2 separate regions of the Homo sapiens genome follow, and region 2 is linked to region 1. Evidence: fine-mapped expression QTL. A gene starts in region 1. The other region holds a variant in brackets. All regions are shown on one strand. Distances are from middle to middle.

What was found. PIP is the estimated chance that this variant, and not a neighbour inherited with it, causes the effect.
Region 2: its variant is fine-mapped to the expression of MIF4GD-DT in naive CD8 T cells (Schmiedel 2018, PIP 0.95).

The regions. Positions count from the first base shown.
Region 1 is chr17:75,269,167-75,273,674 of GRCh38, reverse strand. It overlaps MIF4GD-DT (MIF4GD divergent transcript), which reads right to left and starts at 2,376. Exons shown (of 1, transcript NR_036520.1): 1 at 1-2,376. It overlaps MIF4GD (MIF4G domain containing), which reads left to right and starts at 2,444. Exons shown (of 6, transcript NM_001370592.1): 1 at 2,444-2,531; 2 at 3,430-3,561. The coding sequence starts at 3,480. SLC25A19 (solute carrier family 25 member 19) reads left to right here. Exons shown (of 8, transcript NM_001126121.2): 8 at 36-683. The coding sequence ends at 224. RefSeq lists silencers at 1,018-1,067, 2,038-2,697, 2,808-2,877 and an enhancer at 742-1,529.
Region 2 is chr17:75,241,536-75,245,535 of GRCh38, reverse strand. GGA3 (golgi associated, gamma adaptin ear containing, ARF binding protein 3) reads left to right here. Exons shown (of 17, transcript NM_138619.4): 4 at 819-917; 5 at 1,966-2,089; 6 at 2,370-2,473; 7 at 2,625-2,705; 8 at 3,063-3,200; 9 at 3,840-3,921. Among named protein-coding and RNA genes, the nearest start is that of GGA3, 18 kb to the left of the region's middle. RefSeq lists an enhancer at 2,491-2,540. The variant C/G (reference allele first, on the strand shown) is at 1,514.

The sequences.
Region 1 (4,508 bases):
GGGCATCCATATTTTCATCCCTTTCCTCTCCCCAGGTACGGAGATACAAGGGCCTCATGGACTGTGCCAAGCAGGTGCTGCAAAAGGAAGGCGCCCTGGGCTTCTTCAAGGGCCTGTCCCCCAGCTTGCTGAAGGCTGCCCTCTCCACAGGCTTCATGTTCTTCTCGTATGAATTCTTCTGTAATGTCTTCCACTGCATGAACAGGACAGCCAGCCAGCGCTGAGTGCAGGAAGGACCCCAGGTCTTCCCTGGAGGCAGCCTCCTGAAGGAAGGAAGATTCAGTCTCCACTGAGAGGTGCCGTCTGGCCCTTCCCTGCAGGCCAGCTGCCCCAAGCGGGGTAGCAGCCTTGAACCCACCCAGCTGGGACACCACCAGAAGGTCCAGGGCTCTCCCCATGAGAGAATCAGAGGGAATGCAGGACGTGGTCTATGGTGAGCCAACGACACAGTGAGAAGGAGCAGGAAGTTGCTGTTTCTCCTCTGACCAGCCCACACTCCAAAGGAAACAGACGCCATCCTACACCTATCAGCCCTGCCTGCCAGGAGAACAGAACACACTCCTGGTCTGGATGGGGCTGCTGCTTGAGTGCAGAGGGCTGCGGTAGGCCCTTTGCAGGAGTCAGGTCCCTACACTTGGCCTGTTTTTCCAACCTATTTAATAGACATTAAAGCTAAACACACATTCCTTATCTTACTCCATCTCCCCTGGCACATCTGCCTACTCACAAAGTATGAGGGAAAGGACTCCTGCCTTCCTCAAATCCCATGTTCTCCATAGCGGCAGCCCTTGGCAGCTCTGCTTCTAGTGCTGGGGGAGACTCCAGGCTGAGCCAGTCACTTTCTGGGCCCCGTGCCCAGACCTTCGTGTCTGCAGACACACCACCACCCAGGCTGTCCTCTCCCAGGACCGGGCTGGTCATGGCCGTGGGGCTCCATGGAAAGCAGATCCCAGCGCCCGTGCAGGAAGTGGATGGGCCATGCTGTGGGCAGGCGTGGGTGAAGGTGCAGCCTCTCCCCAGTCTACCTCACTGACTCCTCTTTCACCCAGAGCTGGGTCAGCCTTGCTGGGTGAGGAGCTATCAGCAGGACAGGTGGCATCAGCGCCCACTGCCTGCTCCTCAGTGCAGAGCATGCTGCGGGTGCATCCTCCCCTGTAGCCCCAGAAGGGCCGTGGCTCTGAAGCAGCCCACTGATGGGGATGGCAGAAGGAAGGGGCGGGCACGTAGCCTGGTGAGGGCACAGCTGGTGCCTGGGGTGTTACCAGAGCAGAGGGACACCCACAGGCGGAGAGGCAGAGGAGAAACCAGTTCCAGGCTGAGGGGAGGTCTCCAGAACATGACCTCCACCCTTCCCTCCATCTGCCCGGCCTGTAGGGTTGCTCCGACCTGGGAAGCCCTCCATTCTGCCTCCCTCTCCAGCCTTGGAAAGAGGCACCCACTGGGAGCCGGCGCTGGCCCTGGCCCTGGCGTGTGGGTCCTGGGCTCCTCCTCGCACCATCCTTCCCTGCCTCTGGTCTGGGATTTTGGGGTCTGTCTGGGCCCTGAATGCTGGGGCTTCCTGGCTCTGGGCTGCTGGTTCCCAAGGTCCAGGCTGCGGCGGGGGCCACGAGGATGCAGCTGCCTGAATGCATTTTTTATGAAATTCCGTTAAAGTTTCTTCTCTTCATCTTTCCTGCCCATTGGTTTCTTTTGCTGCAGCTGAGCGTTCTCTTCCTCCTCCGTTTTCGGTGACCACTTTGGCGGTTCTTTTAAAAGGAGGCGAGAACGCGGGCAGCGCCGGCAGCGCTCCTCCCGGTCGCGCGGCAGGAGCGGCGGCAGTTCTTCCCCCACTTCTAGGTGCCCTCCTGTCACCCAGGGCAGACGCCGGGCGGTGGGGTCCGCGCCACTTCAGGGGCATTCGCAACAACCGACGGCCGCGAGTTGCCAATGGGGCCCCTTTCTCGGGGCTGCCCCTATGACCTGAAACTCGCTTCGCCCATGTCCTCCTTGGAGCGGGAGAGGGTTGTGGCTGGCCCCGGCCCTGCAGCCCCTGCCTTCTCTACCTGGGTTGGGGGAGCGGGGAAAGTGGTGCGACCAGGGCTGATGCTGTTCCTCCTGCCACCAGGTCCCCACCACGCGCTCTGCAGGCTCTTCCCACGCCGCGCAGCCCAGCGGTGTCTCCCGGCCCAGTGCACCTGAGCTCCGGGGAGGGCTGGGTGCGGGGCCACGCGCAAGATCGAGGTGCCGGCGGGTCCGGCGTGGGCCCGGACACGGCCCAGGCGCACCGGGTGAAGGGGTGACGAGCCAAGCGAGTTCCGCTTGCGGCTGGGTGGCAGCGTCGCAGGGTCCCACGCAGGCGGCGCGGCTTCCGGGGCGGCCTGGAGGCCAGGGCAGTGCCCCGGGGGCCCGGCAGGTGGCGCGGGCGAGCCGACCCTTCCCCGGCGCCGCGCGAGGAGATGAGCTCACGGCGGGCCCCGCAGCGCCGGACGCTGGTTGCGCGCTCCCAGGCGCCGAGCGGCCCCGGGCACGCGCGCGCGCCACCGGCCCGGCAGGTGGGTCCCGGCTCCCACGCCGCCTCTCCCGCCCGCGGGACCCTGGGCCGTGGGCTCCGCAGCCCGCCCTGTGCCTCCGGGAGGGGCGTTCCGGGCGCGGGGGGAACGGCCGAGGGCTGGAGACCCTAAAGGCGCCTCCTACGGCCAGAGGGGAGCCTCCGGCGGGAGCCACCTCTCCGGGGCGCATCATCCTGCCCCCCAGTAAGAGGAAGGCTCCAGAATGGAGCTCAGGAATTAGGAGTCTCGAGTGCGTAGGGCCGGGTTACTGCCACTCGGGAGCCGATCCGACCAGCCTGTCCCAGGGAGAAGCTGGCACGGGTCTGGGGAGTTCAGGCTGCTCCCGGCAGGGGCGGCGGACAGGGCGCCTGCGTCCCCACCCACGCAGGCCGGCCCCATCCGGGGGATGCAGCGGCGGGTGTTGAGACCGAAGGACTCGGCGAAAGCCAGAAAGAGAGGGTTGGGGAGAGGGGCTCGGAGACCTGCTGGGGACAGAGTCGCACCGCTTGGAGTTCCCAGCCTGGCCCTCACCCGGCATCTTCCTGGGCCAGCAACGTCAGGCCGGTTTATTTAAGCAACTGTAACGTCCGCCCGCACACACCCTGCCCCAGTCTACTCCTGCCTCCTGCTGGGACTGGAGGGTGGGCGCTTTCCTGCTTCAGCTTCTCGCTCTTGTGTAATCCCACAAGCGAGGGATTTCTAAACTGAGCAGCAGGTGCCTGGCTGATGCCCAGTCCCCACCAGAAGCCAAGCCTGGTGGGCCTTCAGCCAACCACCGCACGCCACGGACCGCCCAGGAGTCCCTGTCCCGAGCGCGCCGTCAGCCCCGTCCAGGGCCTGCAGGACGGAACCCGCCCTGCGCTCCACACCTGAGGCCGCTCCCTTCGCCTCTTCTCCTCAGGTGCTGTCCTTATTCCCAGCCCAGTCAAGAGCTACCGGGGCTGGCTAGTCATGGGGGAGCCCAGTAGAGAGGAGTATAAAATCCAGTCCTTTGATGCAGAGACCCAGCAGCTGCTGAAGACAGCACTCAAAGGTGAGCACGGGACCCCTCCTGAGCTGGGGTCAGGAGCTACAGAGAAGGGCCCCTGTGGGCAGCACCAGAGGCTGAGCCTGGTGAATGCCTCCACCCCTCCCCTCATTCTCTGACGATAGGAGTCGGCAACGTAATTCTTGAACTGGAAGACAAGCTACATTGAGGCCATTATTTTGGAGTATGAATCACAGTCACCTCTCAGACTGTAAAGACTGTTTTAAAAGTTTAACCATAGGGCTAGGCGCAGTGGCTCATGTCTGTAGTTCCAGCACTTTGGAAAGCCAAGGTGGGCAGATTGCTTGAGTCCAGGAGTTCAAGACCAGTCCCGGAAACATGGTGTAAACCCCATCTCTACAAAAAAAAAAAAAAAAAGAAAGAAAAGAAAAATTAGCCGGGCATAGTGGCAGGCACCTGTGGTCCCAGCTACTTAAGATGCTGAGGTGGGAGGATTGATTGAGCCTGGGAGGGTGAGGGTGCCATGAGCCATGATCCTGCCACTGCACTCCAGCCTGGCTACAGAGCGAGACCCTGTCTCAAAAAAAAAAAAAAAAAAAAAAAAAAAAAAGTTTAACCATAAAAAAAAGAACACGGCTCCTGCCCTTGAAGCGCTTACATTTGAATTGCTGGTTTCTGTGCTGCCATAGCCCCGTCTCTTGAATGCACAGTTGCCTGCTTTGAGACAGAAGATGGAGAATATTCCGTTTGCCAGAGGAGCTATAGTAATTGCTCTCGCCTGATGCCTTCCCGCTGTAACACGCAGTACAGAGGTTTGTCTTCAACTAATAATTAGCAACACCCATCATGTGTCAAGCCGAGCCTGTTGGGAGGCCCTATGTGGCCCTCTCTTGTTGGGGGTTTGCATGTGTGTAGTATAAGAACACTTTTTCTTGTGAAATTGCTGTTGGAGGCATGTCCTGGTCAGTATTCCTTCCTCAACCTAGTGCCAG
Region 2 (4,000 bases), 28 kb after region 1:
AAAAAAAAAACGTAACAAAACCCAGTGATTCTCAACAGGGCCCTCCAGGGAACATTTGGCAGTGTCTGGAAACATTTTTAGTTGTCACACATCGGGGTGGGGGTCCTCCTGGCATCAAGTAGGCAGAGGCCAGGGATGCTGTTCGACACCCTATAAAGTGCAGAGTGGCCCCCCACAACGAAGAATGACCAGCCCAAAATGTCAGCCAGGCCTCACCTGAGAAACCTTGCTTTAAAATGCAGAAGCCAAGAAAGAGAGCCTGGACAGTGCACTCCCCCTTAGAAACCGCAGTGCCAGGGACCACAGGCAGCACAGGAAAGCCAAAGCGTGAGTTAGGGAGATAAGCGGAGGGAGGAGAAATATCCTGTCATCTTTCTCACAGATAATAGGATTTAAACATCCCTCCCATTCCCTGCACAATTGTTGGTGAGCTTGTGGAAAAAACCCAGGACACCAAGTCAGAGAAACTTTGTCCCTGGACCTCACCTCCCTCATTGTAAAACACGAGGCCAGAATCTTTAAGGAAGGCACCTTCCAGGACTGGCATCCAGGCCTTCTTGGGGTCGGGGTCTCGGGGTTTCTTGCTTTAGTCCCTGCCCAGCTTCCCCAGCAGAGGTTTGCAGTTGGAGGGACATGGTCTGTGAGTGATCTCGTTGCTTAATTACACTGTCCCCGGGCAGTGCACACTGCTTTTCGTGATGAGCTCCTTCCTGTGGGCGTGTTTATTCAGTACTCTCTGGGTGCCAGGGATCTTGCCAGTGCCAGGTTCCAGCCCCGAGCACGCCCTCACTGAGCGCCTCTCCTCTGTGCGGCTACAGGTGCTGGAGGCATGCATGAAGAACTGTGGGAGGAGATTTCATAACGAAGTGGGGAAGTTCCGCTTTTTGAATGAGTTAATCAAAGTCGTCTCTCCAAAGGTCAGTCAGCGGCAGATTCCTCGCTTTTAGGGACTTCTTTTGTGTTCATTCCCATCTCCCATCATACTGGCTTTCACTGCCCATCCAACATCTCCAGGGAGCTGAGATTATTTGTGTCTTGTCCTTAGAGAGCTAGGCCCTGGAGGTAACGGGATGACCAAACAGGCCACAGGGACCGGCAGCTTTTTCTGAAGCGCCCTCAGCCCAAATCTGACAGGTGATGTGGTAGTGGCTGTGTGTTTGTCCAGGGTGAGGGCCCATGTAGTGTGGGACTCTAGGCACCTGGCACATGGCAGTTGTGGGTTTTGTGGGTTTTCTTGGCCTGTGTCACGTGGATACGGGGAGCTGGCCTCCGTCATTGCTCCGATGCTCAGCTGGCCGTGTTCTGTTGCACGCTGGTGTGGCGCAGCTCTGGGCCCCCACTTAAAGCAGAGGGAATACTTTACCATGCTAAAGACATTCTCATGGACACCCCCAAGATAAAATGCAGTTGTGTTTCTGGCAACTTGTGCGTGAAAATGCACTTTCCTCAGAACTCAAAATATCCACCCAACCATGGCCTGCACCACATGGGCATCAGGGTCACAAGGAAGCCT[C/G]TCTGTCTTGATGTCCCCAAGGTAGTAAGGAAAGGCAGAGAGCAGGGGTGAGCACCGAGGGCATGGTCTCTGGTGTCAGACTCAGGTTTCCATCCGGCCCTTACACCCTGGGCAAGTTAGATGATCCCAGGCGGCAAATGGGGACGCCACCCCTACTGACGTGGCTGCTGTGCAGATGAGTAAGGTCATGAATACACTTACAGGACACTTCCTGGACAGGAGGTGATGACCTCCTGGCCCCCTGCCTATCCACAGACTGTATCCAGATGGACACAGCCACACCACAGGGAGTCGTTCCCCTCCCCACGCTGTCTCACACACACTTGGACACCTGCAGATTTTGAGTAGGACCATAGCTGCTGAGCAGCCACGCCATTGCTGTGGAGGGAGCCTTACACTTTCTCTGCCTCCGAACTGCACTTACTAGGTCCTCATTTTCTTTTGCCATGTAGTACCTGGGGGACAGGGTGTCTGAGAAAGTGAAGACCAAGGTTATTGAGCTGCTGTACAGCTGGACCATGGCCCTGCCAGAAGAAGCAAAGATCAAAGACGCCTACCACATGCTGAAGAGACAGGGTACGTGTCTGCCTGCCCGCAGCCTCCAGGCAGCCCTCGAAGGCTGGCCCAGGCAAGGAGAGAAGGGAAGGTTTGGGATCCCCAGAGTCCCTCCTGAAGAGAACAGCATTTGTCCCCAGGCAAGGCTGAGTCGGAGTTGGATGGGATAAGGTGTAGCAGCCTGCCCTCCACCCTGCTACCCTTTGCAGGTCTTGATCACAGGGACGTGGCCCTTGGTGTATGAGGAGGGGTGACAAGGCAACCACAGCCTGAGTGCACGTGCTGCCATGTCCCCTTTCAGGCATAGTGCAGTCTGACCCACCAATTCCTGTGGATAGGACGCTGATCCCCTCTCCACCACCTCGTCCCAAAAACCCTGTTTTTGATGATGAGGAGAAGTCCAAGGTAAAGGACACCCTGGGCCTGGGATTTTCTCATACGAGAGTGGGTGGCAGCAGGGGAATGTGGTTTGCACTGTGCTGCGGGGAGCCTCTGGGGTTTCCCTGGGGTACGGGTGCTGCCTCTTCCCTTCACCTCTGATTTCCTCCTCTCTCAGCTTTTAGCCAAGCTGCTGAAAAGCAAAAACCCAGATGACCTGCAGGAGGCCAACAAGCTCATCAAGTCCATGGTGAAGGAAGTGAGTGGGCCCCGGTCCTTCAGGCACGGGGTGGAGGAGCCCATGGCCACACAGCAGAAGCCGCTTTGCCCCGGACACGGGCCTGTTTTGTTCTCCCCTGCTGCCAGCTGCCCTACCTGTGCCCCGGTGGCTGAGAGTGGGAGGAGGAGCACAATAGCTTCCGCGGGAGCACGGAAGAGAGGAGTGGGTTGGGAGCAGTGTTGTGAAAGCAGAAGTATAGACTGGGCCCCAGGCACCCCACACTGAAAGGAGCTTCCGAGCGTCTGTACTTGTGTTGTGGGGTAAGGTGTGACCTGGTGGAAGTGGAAAGACAGTCAAGTGACGCTCTCTTTCTCTTGAACTTCTTCACTGGGGCAGGACGAGGCACGGATCCAGAAGGTGACCAAGCGTCTGCACACGTTAGAGGAAGTTAACAACAACGTGAGACTGCTCAGTGAGATGCTGCTTCATTACAGCCAGGAGGACTCTTCGGACGGGGACAGAGAGCTGATGAAGGTGGGACCGCCGACGGCAAAGGCTGCCTCCCGGGGCTGCGCTGCCCTTCAGGAGCTCAGCCAGCATTTGCTGAGCACGTGCCTTGTCAGAGACACGGGCTGTGCACTTGGCAGTGTATTCATGACCTTACTCATCTGCACAGCAGCCACGTCAGTAGAGGGTGGCGTCCCCATTTGCCTCCTGGGATCAGCTGACTTGTCCAGGGTGTAAGGGCCAGATGGAAACCTGAGTCTGACTCCAGAGACCACACTCTCGGTGCTCACCCCTGCTCTCTCCCTTTCCTTACTACCTTGGGGACATCAAGACAGAGAGGCTTCCTTGTAACCCTGATGCCCATGTGGTGCAGGCCATGGTTGGGTGGATATTTTGAGTTCTGAGGAACATGCCAGCCTGGAAGGCAGGAGGGGACTGACTTCCCCTGACCCATCCTGGTGACTGCTACCTAGACAAACATCCTGGGTGATGTGGTGTGGTGGTGGTGGCTGGTGGCAAGAAGACGTGCGCTGTGATCCCAGCTTTGCTGGTAATTGACCGTGGCAATTGGCATATCCCGGTCATTTTCTGGGCATGAACCCTGAATGAATCAGATGATCTCTAAGGGCCTTTGTGGTTTGATTTTTATGTCCGAGTCTCTTTCAGGAGCTGTTTGATCAGTGTGAGAACAAGAGGCGGACTTTATTTAAACTCGCCAGTGAGACTGAGGACAATGATAACAGTTTGGGTGAGTGAAAGAGCGACGGTCAGGGATAAGCCAGGCATTTGGATATGTGGGTGGGAACTGTCACAACAGGAGTGAGAAG